Regions from separate parts of the Homo sapiens genome. Here region 1 is linked to region 2. Evidence: fine-mapped expression QTL. Tissue or cell type: testis. Region 2 holds a variant in brackets; the other region holds the start of a gene. All regions are shown on one strand. Distances are between the middles of the regions.

Region 1 (8,191 bases), 110 kb before region 2:
TATCCATAGTTATCAATGGCAATTTGGAGGCTCTCAGAGGCAGAAGTGGTTGGTGTTTTTCTATTTATTGTTCTAGATTTGGGTCTGAGCACTTTTATAAGTGAAACTTTCCAGGTATTTTGTTGTTGTTGTTGTTGTTATATCAGGTCTTAAACTATACCTTTATAAATTCTTAGTCATATATACTAAAGGGCATTTAATCTCACGACTGTTATTTATGGGCTTTAAGTCCTCTATGCAAAGGGTAAAATTGTCCCTGTGAATTTCAGAGGTAGACATTAGGTAAAGAGAGAGTTTTTTGCTTGACTTATTGCTTAAGTCAGAGCGTTCTCTGAATCTTCTAACTCTTCATTTAATTCACTTGAAAGTATTTATTAATCAATGTGCCTAATACATAGATGGGACTGCTTCCAGTGAGTCTGTCAGTCATGTTACCAGAGCCTTTATTTCTTCCTCTATGCCAAGCTTAAAAAATCAGATGATTTATTTTACATGAGCCACACATGCAAATAGACCTGTAATGCTGAAATTTTGATACTTAAAGGTAAATCTAGTATCAGAGAGCTCTATTAAGTGGTCTAGAGTATATTCAAATTACAAGACATGCAACTTATTCTAAAATCTAATGCAATCTACTAACAGCAAGGGAGAGGGAACTATTCAGAGTAAATAGGACATTGTTTATCTGAAATTTTATTGACACATTAATTGACAACTCCATTTTATATGACGTATACAATCAACTGGACCTGTTTAATGTTAGTCCTTAGATAAAAAATAATTGTAGCTCAAGACCTCATAATTGTATATATTTTTTTCACTGTACCTGGTACAATCATTTCATGTATGAAATGAATGAGTCCACAATACCTCAATATTTGAACATTTTGTTTTAATTCACTTAATCATTGAACCACAGAGTCTGTGCTAAATGCTATTATCTCTATAACTCAACAATAAGGAGATTTAACAGACTCACCATTTAATGTGCACGGGAGCACAGATTTCAAAATTTGTTTCAGCACAACCTTTTGGATTATCATATATTTGTACCATAAAATAAATCATCTGATTTTTTACTCTACTGAGACGGATGCATATGCAACATATTTATGTGCATATATTCAGTGTTGGAAATTAATTCATAATCATGTATATCAAGTGATTTGGATATTTACCTGCACCCCATCTCAGGGAATCATTAGAGCTTGCATTTGGAACATTTAACTGATTTTAGTTATGTAATGTAATTTTACACACATTACCTTACATTTCCCTTCAAATTCCTTCTGAATCACACTGTTCTGATTTCCTGGAAACGCAGTTCAAGAAATGGCCAAGAGTAGAAGGATGTTATAAGACATTGAGTTTCGAAGTTTTCCTTTAAAATACAAAAAGTGAAAATTCCACAAAAGTGGAATGAAACTTGATTTATAGTGCCGCAAAGAAAAATCCTGGAATGTGCAGGAAAGGAAGTGAATGAACTTGGGAACAGCTGCAAGTAAGTATGATGAACGACTCTGCATTGGGCTAGCAGTTCATCTGTTCCACTTGCAGCTGCAGGCCAAAGCGTCACCAGGTTTTCTGCAGAAACTCAACTTGGCATTTTAATGGCTGAGGTGAACCCACTGGTGGCCAGCTGCTGGGACTGAAAATCAGAAGCAGCTCCAGTCCTTCCAGATTGTGAGGGGAAAGGTTAAGGAGAGGGAAGTGGTGCCTTGTCCCAGACAGACGCCCATTGGTCCTGAGATTTCAAAAACACCAGGAGAGAGAATGCCTGGCAGTGGAGAAACCAACACTCAGCCTTCTCTGGAAGAAAGAAAAGGCTTGAGGCAGGATTCTCAAGCTTCATTTAATTACGATCAAATAGGGACTGGCAGAAGAGCGTAGCTGCAGATTTGCAGTAACTCTCCCTAAAAGAACATGAGCTGTGAGAGAGTGACCTTGCAGCCAGCACTGATTTGACATTCACCTGTTTCCCTGCTTGCATTGGAATACCGCTGGGTTAGTTTGGATCCCAAACATAGAAAAGTAACTCCTAGCAGGAGGCAGAAGAGAGCACTTAACATTATGCGGCCAAGAGGTTACACTGGCTGCTGCCTCTTATCAATGGGTCTTTCAGGTCCTTTTTGGGAGCAATCCTGGGCTTCATTGCCCTGCCTAAACTGTAGTTTCCAAGCAGTTTCTCAGGCAGTTCCTGTTACATTCTGTGATCCTGCCTAATACAGTAATTTGATTCCAGTTGAAAACTTCCATTACATACATGTCTTGAATCGGGAGAGTTAGAGCCTTATACTTTGTTCCTCTGCAAAACTGTAAGAGCATCACTGCTGTATTAAAGGGAAGTGAGTGGAAAGTTGCAAAGTGAGCCTTTGAGTTCAAGAAAACAGATGAAAATGAGCCCAAGCCTTGGAACTACAGTTCTAAGTTTTGAGTGGTGGACAGAGTGGGAAACCACGTAGCATGCAAAGGGGAGCGGAAGGGCAGAGGAAGGAAGCAAGGCTACAGTGTTTGGCTGTGTTCTAATGTGCTCTGGCATGGAGTTATCGTGAGTGGAACTAATATTACATAACACTATGTATATTTTGGAAGATGGCTGGGAAATAGCCTTTGGAGCCAATGGAGATTTATTAAATAAAAATTACCTCAAGCTTGATTTTTCATCTTTACCAAGCACCATAGTAAATTGGCATCTCTGAGACTCCTGCGGGAGCCAGAAAGCTGGAATCAAAAATTCAGAAACATGAAATCAAGAAAGAACTGAAAATCTGAATGGAAAGCCAGTCACAAAAGAATAAGAAGTAAAATATTCTTTAATTATGTATTATCTCCTACAGATCAAAAGGAACTTTCCACCATTTCATTGAACCTGTGAGTGAAAATGATCCCAAAAGTATAGAGAAAATAAAGAACAGTAAGCAAATTAATTCAGTTTATATACTGTCTTTTAACCTGTTTAGAAAGAATTTGAGAATTGTTTGATCCTGATTATATAAAAAAGATATATCTGTATCTATGTCTACGTATATATTAATACATACAAATAAAATTTCTAGAAGGAAGAGTACACAATTAACAGTGGTTACTTCTGAAGAATGGGAATGGGATGTTGGAGGAGACAGATCTGTCACTTTTCATTTTATATTTCTCTGGTGAGATCAAGGGAGCATCTTACTTTGTAAATATTAAAAATGCTGAAATATGTAGGTTAAAATGTAATTAATCTACATTCCTATTTTTCAGAATTAATCTGACTTACCATCTGGTCATTTTTGCTTGCTTACATTTTTTCTTTTGCAAAACTCATTATGTTGTTTTGCTAAAAACAATTAAAACAATGCATCAAACTAGTAAGAAAAAAAAAGTCTCAAACCACAGAGAAAGACTCACAATTACCATTAGATACATAAAATTCTATGATATATTTCTTTGTACATTTCTGGATCAAATAATGGCAAGATGGATGAACTGATGGATAGATGGATATATAGACATGCATCGATGTAGGCAGACAGTAAGATCATAGTATAATTGATATTTTAATTTAACAGAAGGTTAAAACTGAAATTTTGCTTTTAGAGGAACTATTGACCTCAAATAAATGTTTTATTTTCACCTTAAGACGTATCTTTTTCTAAAAGATCCAAAGTTAACTTGAAAAACATGGAAGTCGATTTTTTTTTTTTTTTTTATTTTAACCTATCAAGCTCAATTGACTCCCTCTCATAAAAGTGGAGGCACAGTGGCTCACGCCTGTAATCCCCGCACTCTGGGAGGCCGAGGCGGGCGGATCACGAGGTCAGGAGATCGAGACCATCCTGGCTAACAAGGTGAAATCCCGTCTCTAGTAAAAAATACAAAAAATTAGCCGGGCCTGGTGGCGGGCGCCTGTAGTCCCAGCTACTCGGGGCTGAGGCAGGAGAATGGCGTGAACCCGGGAGGCGGAGCTTGCAGTGAGCCGAGATCCCGCCGCTGCATTACGGCCTGGCCGAGAGAGCGAGACTCCGTCTAAAAAAAAAAAAAAAAAAAGTGAAGATATTGCCACAGGTCTCAGGTCCTCTTTCCCTGCTTCACTTTCTATTAGTTTTATCAGTTAGGTTTACATTTACTAAGTTTAGAGCATATACAATCTTTTTTTCTTTTTTTTTTTTTGAGACGGAGTCTCGCTCTGTCGCCCAGGCTGGAGTGCAGCGGCAGGATCTCGACTCACTGCAAGCTCCGCCTACCAGATTCACGCCATTCTCCTGCCTCAGACCCCGGAGTAGCCGGGACTACAGGCGCCTGTGCAATCTCTATGGTAACCACATTTCCCAGTTGACTACTACCGGTAATAAAATCAAATGGATTCAGTGCTCACAACTCTTCAGTCTTTGGGCTACTTTCCATTCTTGAATTTTTAGCTGAATTCATCTCTTTGGCTGGATTTTGTGGTAAAGTAGTTTTTTGCTTATTTTTTCCCCCAAGAAGGGCTTACATGGGTCTTTTTCTATGAATTATTTTCCTACTTGACAATATTTACTTGTTACTTTTTTACTTTCATCATGCCTTGGGCGCATATAATACTCTCCCTTCACATTTTCTTTCCTTGAATTTGTGGAGAATTTTCCATTTTATTCTTGCAGTCAACTTTACTGAAAACAAATCTGAAATAAAATTAATGTTATTCTACCGTATAGGCGATTGGCTTTTTAGTCCCAAGATGCCTAAAAATAAGTTACCCTTAACACATAATAGCTTAACTTAGTTAGGTCTAGAAATTGAGGGTTTGTTTTGTACCACATTTTCTAGAAAGAGTGCTCCTTCAACCTAAAGATTTACTTAGCTTTTTTTCAGGAAATTTCTTGGATTAGATCTTAGAATAAATATTTATTTTCATTTGTTAAATTCTCTACTTCAGGAATATCTGTTAACATTGTGTTGGATTTTTTTGTTTAAAGTATTCACTTTTCTCTAATTGCTTTTATCTCCTTATCTGTTCATCTTCCTTCACTATAATTATCTTAATCCCCATTTCTCTGTATCAGTAACTTAATTTTCAATTGCATCCATTGTTTTTCTAATTTATGTATTAGTTTCATAAGGCTATTGTTTTGAGTTCTTTCCCCCTTATATCGGTACTCTCCTTTATCATCTAATTCTGTTATTCTATTATTTTGTCTTTGAATTTTGTTTTAGTGAACTTACATTCCTCTATTATATTACATTATATTAGAATTAGTAGTTTTGAGTAGGTTGGTTCATGAGTTTGTGAGTAGGGTAGTTTCAAGTAGGGTTGAGTAGTATTTTTATGTTTCTTGTGATAATTTTGCCAAACAATGAATATTTCTTTTTAGTATAAAGATGTCTCATGGAATATTTAGGACATGTATATGCTAAAATTTATTTGTTGCTTATATGAATTTCAAATTGAGCTGGGTGTCTCTATTTTTATATTTTAATTTGCTAAATCTGTATGTTTTTTATAAATTTCCTTCCTTCCCTCCTTCCTTCCTTCCTTCCTTCCTTCCTTCCTTCCTTCCTTCCTTCCTTCCTTCCCTCCCTCCCTCCCTCCCTAATCTAGGAGGATTTTATAGTTGCCATAGCGTTTTCTTTTCTTTTTGCTCATGCTTGTGTGTCCCTAAGATGCCAAGTTAGGTGGGATATATTGTAGGTGGCCTCTTGACTCTCTTCTCACCATACTGTTTGTTTTCTTTACTTAATATACAGTCTGAGAACTGAATTTACTTTCATGGATTATCTGTTTGTCTGTAATCTATGGGAATACTGGGTGATGAAGGCAGGGATCTAGTCTTAGATACTCTGCAGCCTTTTCTCTGTCTCCTAAGATATTTTTTCTGTGCAATGGGAGAGGGGTTTTTGTCCAATCCCCTGGGAAATACTATAAATGAATAATTTCTCAAATTTGCTGTGTATTCTTGAATCTTCACTCTCTTCAAAGAGACTTAAGCCACTATTTCATTCCGGGTAGGAGCAGCTAAACTAAACTAACAGAAAAGCTACAAATTACAGTGGCTTAAAAAACAAAGGACATTTTTCTTGCTTGGGTAAAGTTTCATTTATTTTTCCCTCTATTTCATTGCCATGACTTTTAGGGAGCAGTGACTTCTAAATTGTGGTTCTTAATCAACTAGAGTTTATAGTTTGTCTAACATTTTAAAAATATAATCAGTTTCTTTACTACTATTTTTATATTACTAATTCATTAATTTTCACCCAAATCTTTAAGAACATGGCTCTCATGGTTAGGGAAAGAAAATTGCGCAAAGGACTTGTGTCCATACCGTTTTTTTGGCCTCACTATTCCTGAATGTGGTTTCTTTCTTCTAATGACCAAACTTTAGGGGACTAGGACTGTGCATCTCAGAATTAAACTGGTATTTCTGATATGTATGGTTTATGGTTCAATGGAAAAATATAAGAATTTTTCAAATAATTTTCTGATTGTAAGGATGAATGTGACCTAATGTTAAAATGGCAGGACAGAAATATTAAAGAACTGAATGATGGCATCAGCTCAGCCATTTAGTATTTGATTTTGGACTTAGTTTCCTCATCTGTATAATAAGAGCTTTGCCTATGTATTTTTCCAAGACCATTTCAGGGTTTTGCATTATTTTATTTCATTTGGAATTAACATTCAGGTCATCTTATAGTAGTGTACTGAATAACTGAATGTTAAATGTCTTGCTAAAATAAATATTGGGTTGGTGAAGTTGAAGTTTTGGAATAATAGCTAAAATTAATAACTATAGATTTTAATTAATGATTTCATTCACTAACTTTCAAAAGTTAGACATTCAAAAACTGCAAGAAGAATATTTTTTCAAGATTATAAATTGCTAGATTCTTCCTGCAGTGGAAAGGGGAACATGAGATATTTGCAGTATTAAATAGATACTCACTTTCAATTGATACATTTAATAACATCACTAACCTTCCTATTCATAGTGAAATGAGTGATGAAAAAGTTTTTTAGTAAATATTTTTTACTGGAACAGAAATAATTTTGTAGCAGGATTCATAATTTGTGTATACTGATTTAAGAATATCATTACTTCCTGAAAGTGGCATTCATCTCTATGGGTAGTCATTTTAACAAGGTTTTTGTTAAAACCTTCCCCTTCATTAACACACTTTAGGAAAGTGTCTTCTAAGTCATTCTATCAAAGTCTGTTGCTTTCAAATTTGATTAAAGAAAACAAAGTATTATTTGCGTACCTCATTTTTCTCTAACACATTTTTCTTTGCATTTCTCATATTCTGGATTATGTGGGGATCAAATATGATTTAAATGTTATGCACAATTTTGTGGTTTTTCCTACTAATGAAATTTTGAGTTGCAAAGTTAACATTCTGCCATTGTTAATATATTCTTATTATAAAAAGACAAAATTTCAACACATTTCATTTAAAGATCTCAATTGGCTTTTACTTGCAATTCCAGAATCGGGCAGCCATTAGAACCAAAACAGTTCTGAGGAGCTCCCAGGCTGCAATGTGGTGCGAAATGTTTTATGGACAGAAAATGGAAATGAGGTGCAGAAATTGGAGGTGAGATTCAGAGATAGCTGATTGGTTACAGCTCAGCCTTTGCCTTGTTTGAACATGGTTTGAACAGTTGATTGACTGAAGCTAGGCTGCTGTGATTGGCTGATACTTTACTATTTGTTACAAAGGCAAATTCCTAATTTAAGCTTTCAAATTGTTTAAGTACTAAGTTAGGTTTTACTTTGTTACTTAGGACTCATATCGAGGTTTCTAAAGCCCACATCTGATACGATTTAACATTACCTATGTGAAGAATTACTAAGCAGAAACATTTTGAAAGCCTCATGACCTGAATCGTATTAAATACTTAACAATTGAATTTGTCTCAATAATAATTATGTTTAAAATTATGAATGCTGGTTTGTAAAAAAAAAAGCCACAAATTTTAAAATTCTGATATAATCTAATATCTGGTATTCAGCTTTGTATTATCATTTTAAAATTTAATGAACATCTCTGGACTCTAAATATTTTTCTTTTTAAAGTTATATAAAACATTCTCTTTATATTCATTATAACTATTAAACTATTTGCCTACTTATTTATATTGAAAGTCCTTAATATTTTTACAATAATTTAATAGGTTTCACAATCATCATTACTTATTATAGTTTATACTGTTTGAATAATAAATATATGTCTA
Region 2 (8,191 bases):
CAAGATTTGTTAAAGAACTGGCTTAGCAGGGTGGGCACAAAGGAAATACAGAATTAAAGGATAATTCCAAAGGTTCCAACCTGAGCAACTAAGTAGAGGCTGGCATTTACTAAGATGGGTGAGATTGAGAGAAGGGGAGTATCAGGAGGCAAGATTACTTGTTATTTTTTAGCCATGTTTACATTTTTTTGAGATATCTTCTGAGTATCTGAGAAGAAATTTCAAGTGGGCAATTTGTTGGACAAGTTTTTGGTTCATGGGAGAAATTAGGACATGGATGCAATTTTGTGAGCCTGTAACACACAGCTAGTATTTAGAGCTAAGGGTCTATATGAAATCACCTAAATAGTACTTATAGATATGAAAGAGAAGGACAGAGCCCAGGGGTACTCTTACATTTACAGGTGAGCATAAAAAAGAAATCAAAAGAAACTCTAAAGGATCAAAAGCAAAGTAGAAGAAAACCAAACAGCCATGCGGGAGTGATTGTTGAGATGTTTTGAAAAAGAGAAGGTTGACAGTCATTTAGGAAGGTGAGGAATCAAACACAGTGCAGATGAGGGTGGTGTAGGGAGATCATTCTCTAGGTGCCCTTTGCATTTTTGCTCATCTTACGATCAGAGTCACTAACTCTCTTGGTTCAGGAGTTGGAAGATACAGTGGCCTGTTCCAGAGCAAAGGCAGGTTCAGTTGCTGTTCAGGATAATGAAGATAATGCCTCCCACTGAGGCAAAGATCAACAGAGCTTACTGCCCATTATAAAATATTCAGATTCCTTAAGCGCATGGTTCCTCTCCTATAATACAAACCTCTTGCAGGTACTGTTGTCACCTGGCCCTTTTCATATCACCCTGTGAGGAGTGGGGCCCAGAGAACCTACACAAATGCAAACACTTCAACCACTGCTATTGTCATAAAGTCCGTGGTCTCTGACCCAAAGTCTCATGTCCCCTGCTAGCATCCATGAAACAGTGGCAGGTGAACTTTGAAAACAGGATAGGCTAAAATCTCAGATCCTTCACTACTCTTCACAGATAGTAGGCCATTGTGATGGTCTACTTGAGCTCTGTTGTTGTGGTGGCATATCTTTCTGTACCGATATTCAGTTGGTTTGATGCAAGCATGGTACAGGTAGATGGGTTTATGCCTTAGATATTTAATAAGAATGCCTTAACACATGATCATATGTCTTCTTTCTTCACTGACAATGGCACCCCACTAATGGAGTGTGCAAATCCAGGAAGACCAGTGTTTGAACGTTGTGGGGTAAAGTGCCGATAGGTAAGCCCGCATATTTAGATATTTCTAAGAGGTTCTAAAATGATGAATACTTTCCTCAATCATTTGTCACAACCAAAGTCTATATTCTTATGCTTAGATGTCATAATTCATATTAAAGAATTGGGCCTTATATAACACCTTAATATTAATAGTACTTGGCTAAGCACAGACGATCAACAACACTTAATTAATGAAACTAGTTCTGAATACATTATATACTTTCAGGGTATATAAGGAGGTAATTACATTTTACAGAGGCATATACTCTATATCTGGTTTATTCGATTGTGAATCAATAAACATGGGGGTTTTTTTTAAAACATGATTTCTATGATGAATTTTTAATTTAATTGTAGGAAGCTCCTTTACCGCTGAGTCACCAGTGTCTTCTTGTATAATATAAAGACATTATGGCCTGGCATGGTGGCTCATGCCTGTAGTCCCAGCACTTTGGGAGGCCGAGGCGGGTGGATCATTTGAGGTCACGAGTTCAAGACCAGCCTGGCCAACATGGCGAAACCCTGTCTCTACTAAAAATACAAAAATTAGGCCTGGTGGTGCATGCCTGTAGTCCTAGCTACTTGGGAGGTTGAGGCAGGAGAATTGCTTGAACCCGAGAGGCCAAGGTTGCAATGAGCCGAGATTGCACCACTGTACTCTAGCCTGGGAGACAGAGTGAGACCCCATCTCAAAAGAAAAAAAATAAAATAAAAGACATTAGCCATCTGGAGCAGTTAAGTATATATTTTTCTATAAAGCAATTTAATGTAGATGATATTTTCTCTCTGTGTGTGCACAATTGCATGCATATGTCAAGTGTCGTGAGATTCCAAGTATTTGACGATCTGCTTCTTCTATAGACAGTTGGGTACATAAAAGGAGAGCCATGTGCAAATCCAGTCTCTGGTTCTAGGTTTATACCTCCTCTTCTCCACCTCCGCTTTCCTTGATAACCCCTGATGCACACAGCCAGCCATCCTCATCCCTCGAGATGTGGTTGATTTCTCTCTATTTGGGTTTCAGGAAATTGTTTTTCCTCCCTTCTGAGAGTCTATGCGCTGCTGCAGGCCAGTCAGTATTGATTCAATTCTGGGTGAATCCTCTCTCACTCTTTCCTAAGTGTATATTGTATATGTAGTTCTTCTGCCAAAAGCAGCTTTGTATTAAGATTGTATTAAGATTTAAGTTTTCTTAAATTTGCAAGTCACCTAAAATATATCCTGTGTCTGCTGGGATCCTTTTGATGTTGAAGCGTCTTGGAGTAGACAATAGAGGATTTTCATATGGTGGAAGAATGTTAGGTGTCCTTGTTGGAGAAGAGAGGAAGAGTAGAGAACCCCTTTAAAGCCCTCTTACTGCCTGTTCCTTGCATCTCATCTCTACATATTTAGCAATCACATCTGCTGATTTGGCAAACACTAACAGCAGCTACACAGCGTCAGTGAGGACAATAGTGAGTGGATTTAAACATCAGGGGCGATGTACCAGTGCAATAAATAGAATATATCATTGTTTCACTGCGGACAGAATGTCTGTGCTCTCTATGAGGATCTGCATTTAAGCCCAACACCCAAGGAAGGCAAACATCTAAAGCTCAGCATGGGGTCCTTCAAGCAGGGGAATACAAACAAAGCATTTTTCTCCCAAAACACAAGTTTTAGGATTTCATGTCAAAGACATGCTGCCAATCAGAAGACAGCATTCCCCCTTCTTAGAGCTGGAAATGGTAACCAGGACACATTGGTATGCACAATTCTGCTGGCTCAGAGCACACGCAAGCTCCTAGGCTGTGACTGGCAGGAGGCTCACAGCGATTTCTTTTTTTTTGAGACAGGGTCTCACTCTGTCGCCCAGACTGGAGTGCGCAGTGGTGCAGTCTTGGCTCACTGCAACCTCAGCTTCCCAGGTTCAAGCAATTATTCTGCCTCAGCCTCCCAAGTAGCTGAGTTTATAGGCGCCCACCACCAAGCGCAGCTAACTTTCTTGTATTTTTTTTAGTAGAAACAGGGTTTCACCATATTGGCCAGGCTGTTTTCAATGTTTTTGAACTCCTGACCTCAAGTGATCCACCCACCTCGGCCTCCCTAGGATTATAGGCATGAGCCACCATGCCCAGCAAGCTCACAGCAATTTTTAATGCAATATGATCAGACCTAATTTTGGCTTTTTGATTTCCTCCCTTAAACCTCAGGCAGGCACTTTTTCAAAAGAGAAATCAATCAGTCAATCAATCAGTCAATCAACAGTGAGTGAATGAATGACTAAATTGTTTGTTTTTAGCATGGCATAAAATAATCCTTAATATTTTGACCTCAAGCAACCATTCTGACCATATCTTCTTCCATGCGCCTTTGACTGAGTACCCAGATACATGCAGAGTCAAGTTTTCTAGATCACAGCCTTGTCCTCTAATTCAGTGCCTTGGTATGAAATCTTTCTTCTTCTATGTCCTTTTTTTGCCAGATGAAATTTCAGTCTTTATTCAAG[A/G]TCAAGTGCAACTGTCTCTTTGAGGAAAGTCCTTTGACCGCCATTTCTCCCCTTCAGAAGGCAAACACCTGGGGGAGAAGATCTGCTTAAGGACCTGGTAACTGACAAAGAATGGAATGGGAGCGAGAACCGCCTAGCCATCCCTTCTCCTTGCACAGTCATGAAACAAAAGTTGAAAAGGAGCCTGGTTTTACTTGACCAGTCATAAATTACCATAAAATAAAATGAGATATTAGGAACCTTTGATCTCTGAAAAAGTAATATGTGTTGAAAAGAAATATCACTGTTACATATAGACAAATAATAGAAATATTTGAGGCATGCATTTAAAATGTAGAGGCCACTTATAGCAGGCATATTAACATGTGCATTTGCTTTTTAAGAAGTATACACACGTGTACCTTTAGCTTTGAAAGGGTAAGATTCAATGCTTGGGTGATGGATGCACTAAAGTCTCAGAAGCCACCACTAAAGGACTTACCCACGTAACCGAAAACAACCTGTACTCCAAAATCAATGAAATAAAATAAAAAGGTAAGATTCATAAATAGCAAGTTGAGAATGCATGTTTATACCATGTAGACAATGCATGATAAATTGTTGGCAATAAGACCCATGTAGCTGACTTTGGGGATACAAAGTAGCTTCTGAAAGAGGTTCCTAATTAGCCCTGCCTGAGGTGACTGCTTAAGGTATTTATCTGTAGCTGGAATGCATTGCCTCAGAGACTTGAGGATTCAGGAGCTATGAGTTTCAAGGCCACAGATGCAGTGGAATAGTAAGGCTTCTTCCCCTGCCTGGCACATTGACCTAACTGATGAGAGGTGCCTTAGGGACCCAGCAGCTATGGCCATTTATGTCTAGTCCCTCACTCTAGAAAGGAATTGCTTGAATACCACGGTGCTGGAGTTTGTAGCCACAATGCTGAAGGTCAGGGCAGTCCTTCATGATGATGCATTTCTGTCAGCCATACTTGCACATCTCTTTAATGTCTGCAATGTCATTAAGCAGTGGTGTATCATTTTTTTTTAATGCAGAAACTAAACTGATACTCAAAACCTATGACAATTTGAATCCTTCCTGCCTATCCAACCTTAGTTTTTCTGCTCGATAATATAAATTCTCCCTTTCAGTCAGGTAGATAGTCTTCCTGTCTTCCTGTCATTCTTGGTTTCTCTTTGTTGCTCTTGTCTTCCCCACCTGCTGAAATGCTTTTCTTCTTTCTTTCTTTTTTTTTTTTCTGAGAAAAGACCTCACTCTGTTGCCCATCCTGGAGTGCAGTGGCATAATGACAACTCAATGCAGTCTCAAGCTCCTGGGTCAAGTGATCATCCTTCCTCAGCCTACTGAGTAGCTGGGACTACAGGCATGTGCCACCACATCTGGCTAATTTCTTCATTTTTTTGTAGAGACTGGGTCTTGCTATGCTGCCCAAGCTGGTCTTGAACTCCTGGGCTCAAGTGATCTTCCCACTTCAGCCTCCAAAAGTGCAGGGATTACAGACATGAGCCACCCATGTACCTGGTTTCTCTCTTCTTTTCTAACTAATCAAGTACTTTAAGTCACAACTCAGGGTGACAACCTCCACCTCCATTGACTTCTCCAGAGCATTTCATTTCCTCTTATCCTTTCTCTGCACTTTGTTAGAACTTACATTCTGATTTGTACTGTTGACCTTTGAGCCCTTAAGTTTATGCACCTTCTCTCTCTCTCTCTCTCGCTCACTCTCTCTCTCTCTGTCTCTGTGTCTCTCTCTGTTTCTGTCTCTCTCTTTTTCTCTGTCAATTATTTTATTCTGGTATTTGGTACTTATGAGAAATCTTATTAGTATCCTAAACTCTCTCAAAACAGGAAATGTGTATTTTCCTTCTCATCTAATTCTTAGGAAACTTCATATAGGAATAAAAAATATGTAGTAGTGGATTGTCTGGTAAATGAATAAAAGAGGGATTTGAGGTCAGTGGGCTGTTTCAGGACATGACCAAGGAATGTGGTACCAGGGCAGCAACAAGCTTGCTAAGGGGCGATAAAGTAGTCATTGTATATAACAGAGGAATTTGGGCTCAATGCAGATTTGCCACTAACTCTTTGGCAGTATAGAATTCACTAGAGAAATATTAGTAGGTTAGTTAGTATTCCTAATAAAGAACTGCTAATACCTTATAGAGACATAAGCCATGTTTCTCGTCTTTCGTTTCTGAAATGAAATTTTGGCCAGGGAAACATTTTGCATCCCTTTTTGATGTCTACAAATGTGGCATTTGTCAGATGTGAGATAGTTAAGTGTGTGTGTGTGTGTGTGTGTGTATATATATACTTTATATATGTATATATACATATCCTATGTGTGTGGGTATATATATATATATATATATATATATATATATATATGAATGATGCATGGAGAGATATCTCTCCATGCATCCAAAATATTCACAACTTTTCACTAATATCTGAATAACATTTGAAAAATTGACAACTCTTCTGGCTAAAGATCAGCATACACATTCGTTCCACAGAGACTTGTGCCAAAATCTTGCTCAGCTCAAGGGGTACTGCACAATAAACAATAAGAAACTTTTATAACTCCGACTAATAGAACTCATTGCTTTTCCAGTTTGAAGATAAAGGATGTCTGCTTGCTTTCCATGCCTAATTTTCCTGATGCTGTAAAGCTGTTCAGGAAAGTTCCCACTGCAGGAGTTTTGCTAGTAATCTTCAGCTCCGTGGGAAGCCTTTGGACTCTGTTGCTATCCCTGAAAGTGGCTGTTCTTCTCCATCAGTTTCCTGGGCAAGGGCTCGAACCAGCTATTAGTGTCTATTTGCACTGCATGAAAACAAAATTTAATGTAAAGACGCTTATAGCTTGCCTACCCTAAAACCCCAGGAGTCTCATTCTGCCTGACCCTGGACATTTTTTGAACTGATAGAGGGATGGGTATCTGGTGGGTCTCTTCAGTCAGCTCATCTCAGCATGTTGAAAGTCCAAATGACCCTTGCCTGAGGATGGTGAAAGTAATTTGTATGTGTGTATACATAATCCTGCTTTTTCACTATTTCCAGTCACAGATTGCAGAGATAGTTGACTGTGCTTGTTAGTGTGAGTGTTAATAACTTTGCTATGCTGATTTTTAGACTTCCTATGCTATATGATCTCCCTGAAGAGCATGACAGAGCATTGCTTTGGAAAATCAATATTCGGCGTGATTATTCCTTCTTTCATGTGTAATCAAACTTTGAAGACCACCAATAGGCCAAATCTACAAGCATTAGGTTTCTAAACATATTGTTTAGTCAGGAGAAATTGTGTTTTCTAGCTGAGGTATGCCAGCTACTGGTATGGAGAAAATCTGCCTAGCAAATTGGAAGGGGCCAGAAGCTCAAATGCTATTGAGAACCACTCAACAATTCTTTTTTCTTATACACAGGATTGAAGCACAGAGCAAAAGGAAAATCCAGCTTTGGGATTTGTTCCCTTGAACTTACAAATGATTCATTAGACCAATGACATTGTGAGAATTTGGTCTCTGACAAAGAAATAAATGTTTTAAAAATAGTGCTAATACATAGGTACAAATACAGAATTATGTCAGGCATGTATTTTTTTAAAGATAGAGTCCAGTGAAAAGAATACGTGTTAGAATATGGATTAGGTTTCTAAAGGTATACTTATGTCTGCCTTCGTCTTCAGAAAACAAAGTTGTATGTACACTTTAAGAAAGGTCTTAGTGTGGTAAACGTGAGGCAAACCAAAGTCCTGTTACTTCTTTTGTCATATCATTAAAGCCTCCAGACGGAGGTTTCTTCCCATTATGTGATGTGCAGAATTTCAGATGTCAGTCAGCAGCTGAAGTCAACTGTTGGTCCACCAGGCCTCTAAGCTGCAGCCTCTGTCAGCTTGGGGACAGTGGGATCCATGTGACTTGCCTGCTACTGCCCTTGATTGGGCAGATCACAGAGCAGATGGCCTGTGTCTAGAGTACAAGGTGTTAAGGCTTTTTTTTTGGGGGGGGAAGAAATAATTCACATGTGCTAATATTCCTGGATGTTTCACTGATAATATAATATAGAATGTATGAAAAAATCAAAGTCAATTAGAACCAGAAATCTCCTGATACTGGATGATTCTATACATAAATATCTTGCACTAACAGCAAGAATAATAAAAGTTGTACAAAAAATGTCTGTTCTTCCCCAGACCATGAGCTCCATGGAGGCAGAGACCTTATTTGGTTGGTTTACTGCCCTTCCCCAATGTTTCTACCAAGCTGAACATGTATCCAGCTCTCAGTGCCCCATTGAGTTGAAATAAATTACAGTGACATAAACTATGTTCTTCATCAAATGCTGGACAAGCACGTTTCTCAGGCAACTTCTCTGGGATCAACATAAGAACAGGGTGATGAAATGTGAGAAGCAGTGA

Direction of the effects. Alleles are on the strand shown, and positions count from the first base shown. SD is a standard deviation of normalised expression in the study named.
For the expression in testis of the gene that starts at base 3,802 in region 1, A is the high allele of the variant in region 2 and G is the other (large effect, 1.1 SD a copy in GTEx).

What was found. PIP is the estimated chance that this variant, and not a neighbour inherited with it, causes the effect.
Region 1: NRG1-IT1 starts here. The variant in region 2 is fine-mapped to the expression of NRG1-IT1 in testis (GTEx, PIP above 0.99).

What each region holds. Positions count from the first base shown.
Region 1 is chr8:32,021,935-32,030,125 of GRCh38, forward strand. It overlaps NRG1-IT1 (NRG1 intronic transcript 1), which reads left to right and starts at 3,802. Exons shown (of 3, transcript NR_104158.1): 1 at 3,802-3,830; 2 at 7,445-7,551. It also overlaps a transcript of NRG1 not described here.
Region 2 is chr8:32,135,471-32,143,661 of GRCh38, forward strand. It overlaps NRG1-IT1 (NRG1 intronic transcript 1), which reads left to right. Exons shown (of 3, transcript NR_104158.1): 3 at 3,745-4,007. It also overlaps a transcript of NRG1 not described here. Among named protein-coding and RNA genes, the nearest start is that of NRG1-IT1, 110 kb to the left of the region's middle. The variant A/G (reference allele first, on the strand shown) is at 3,769.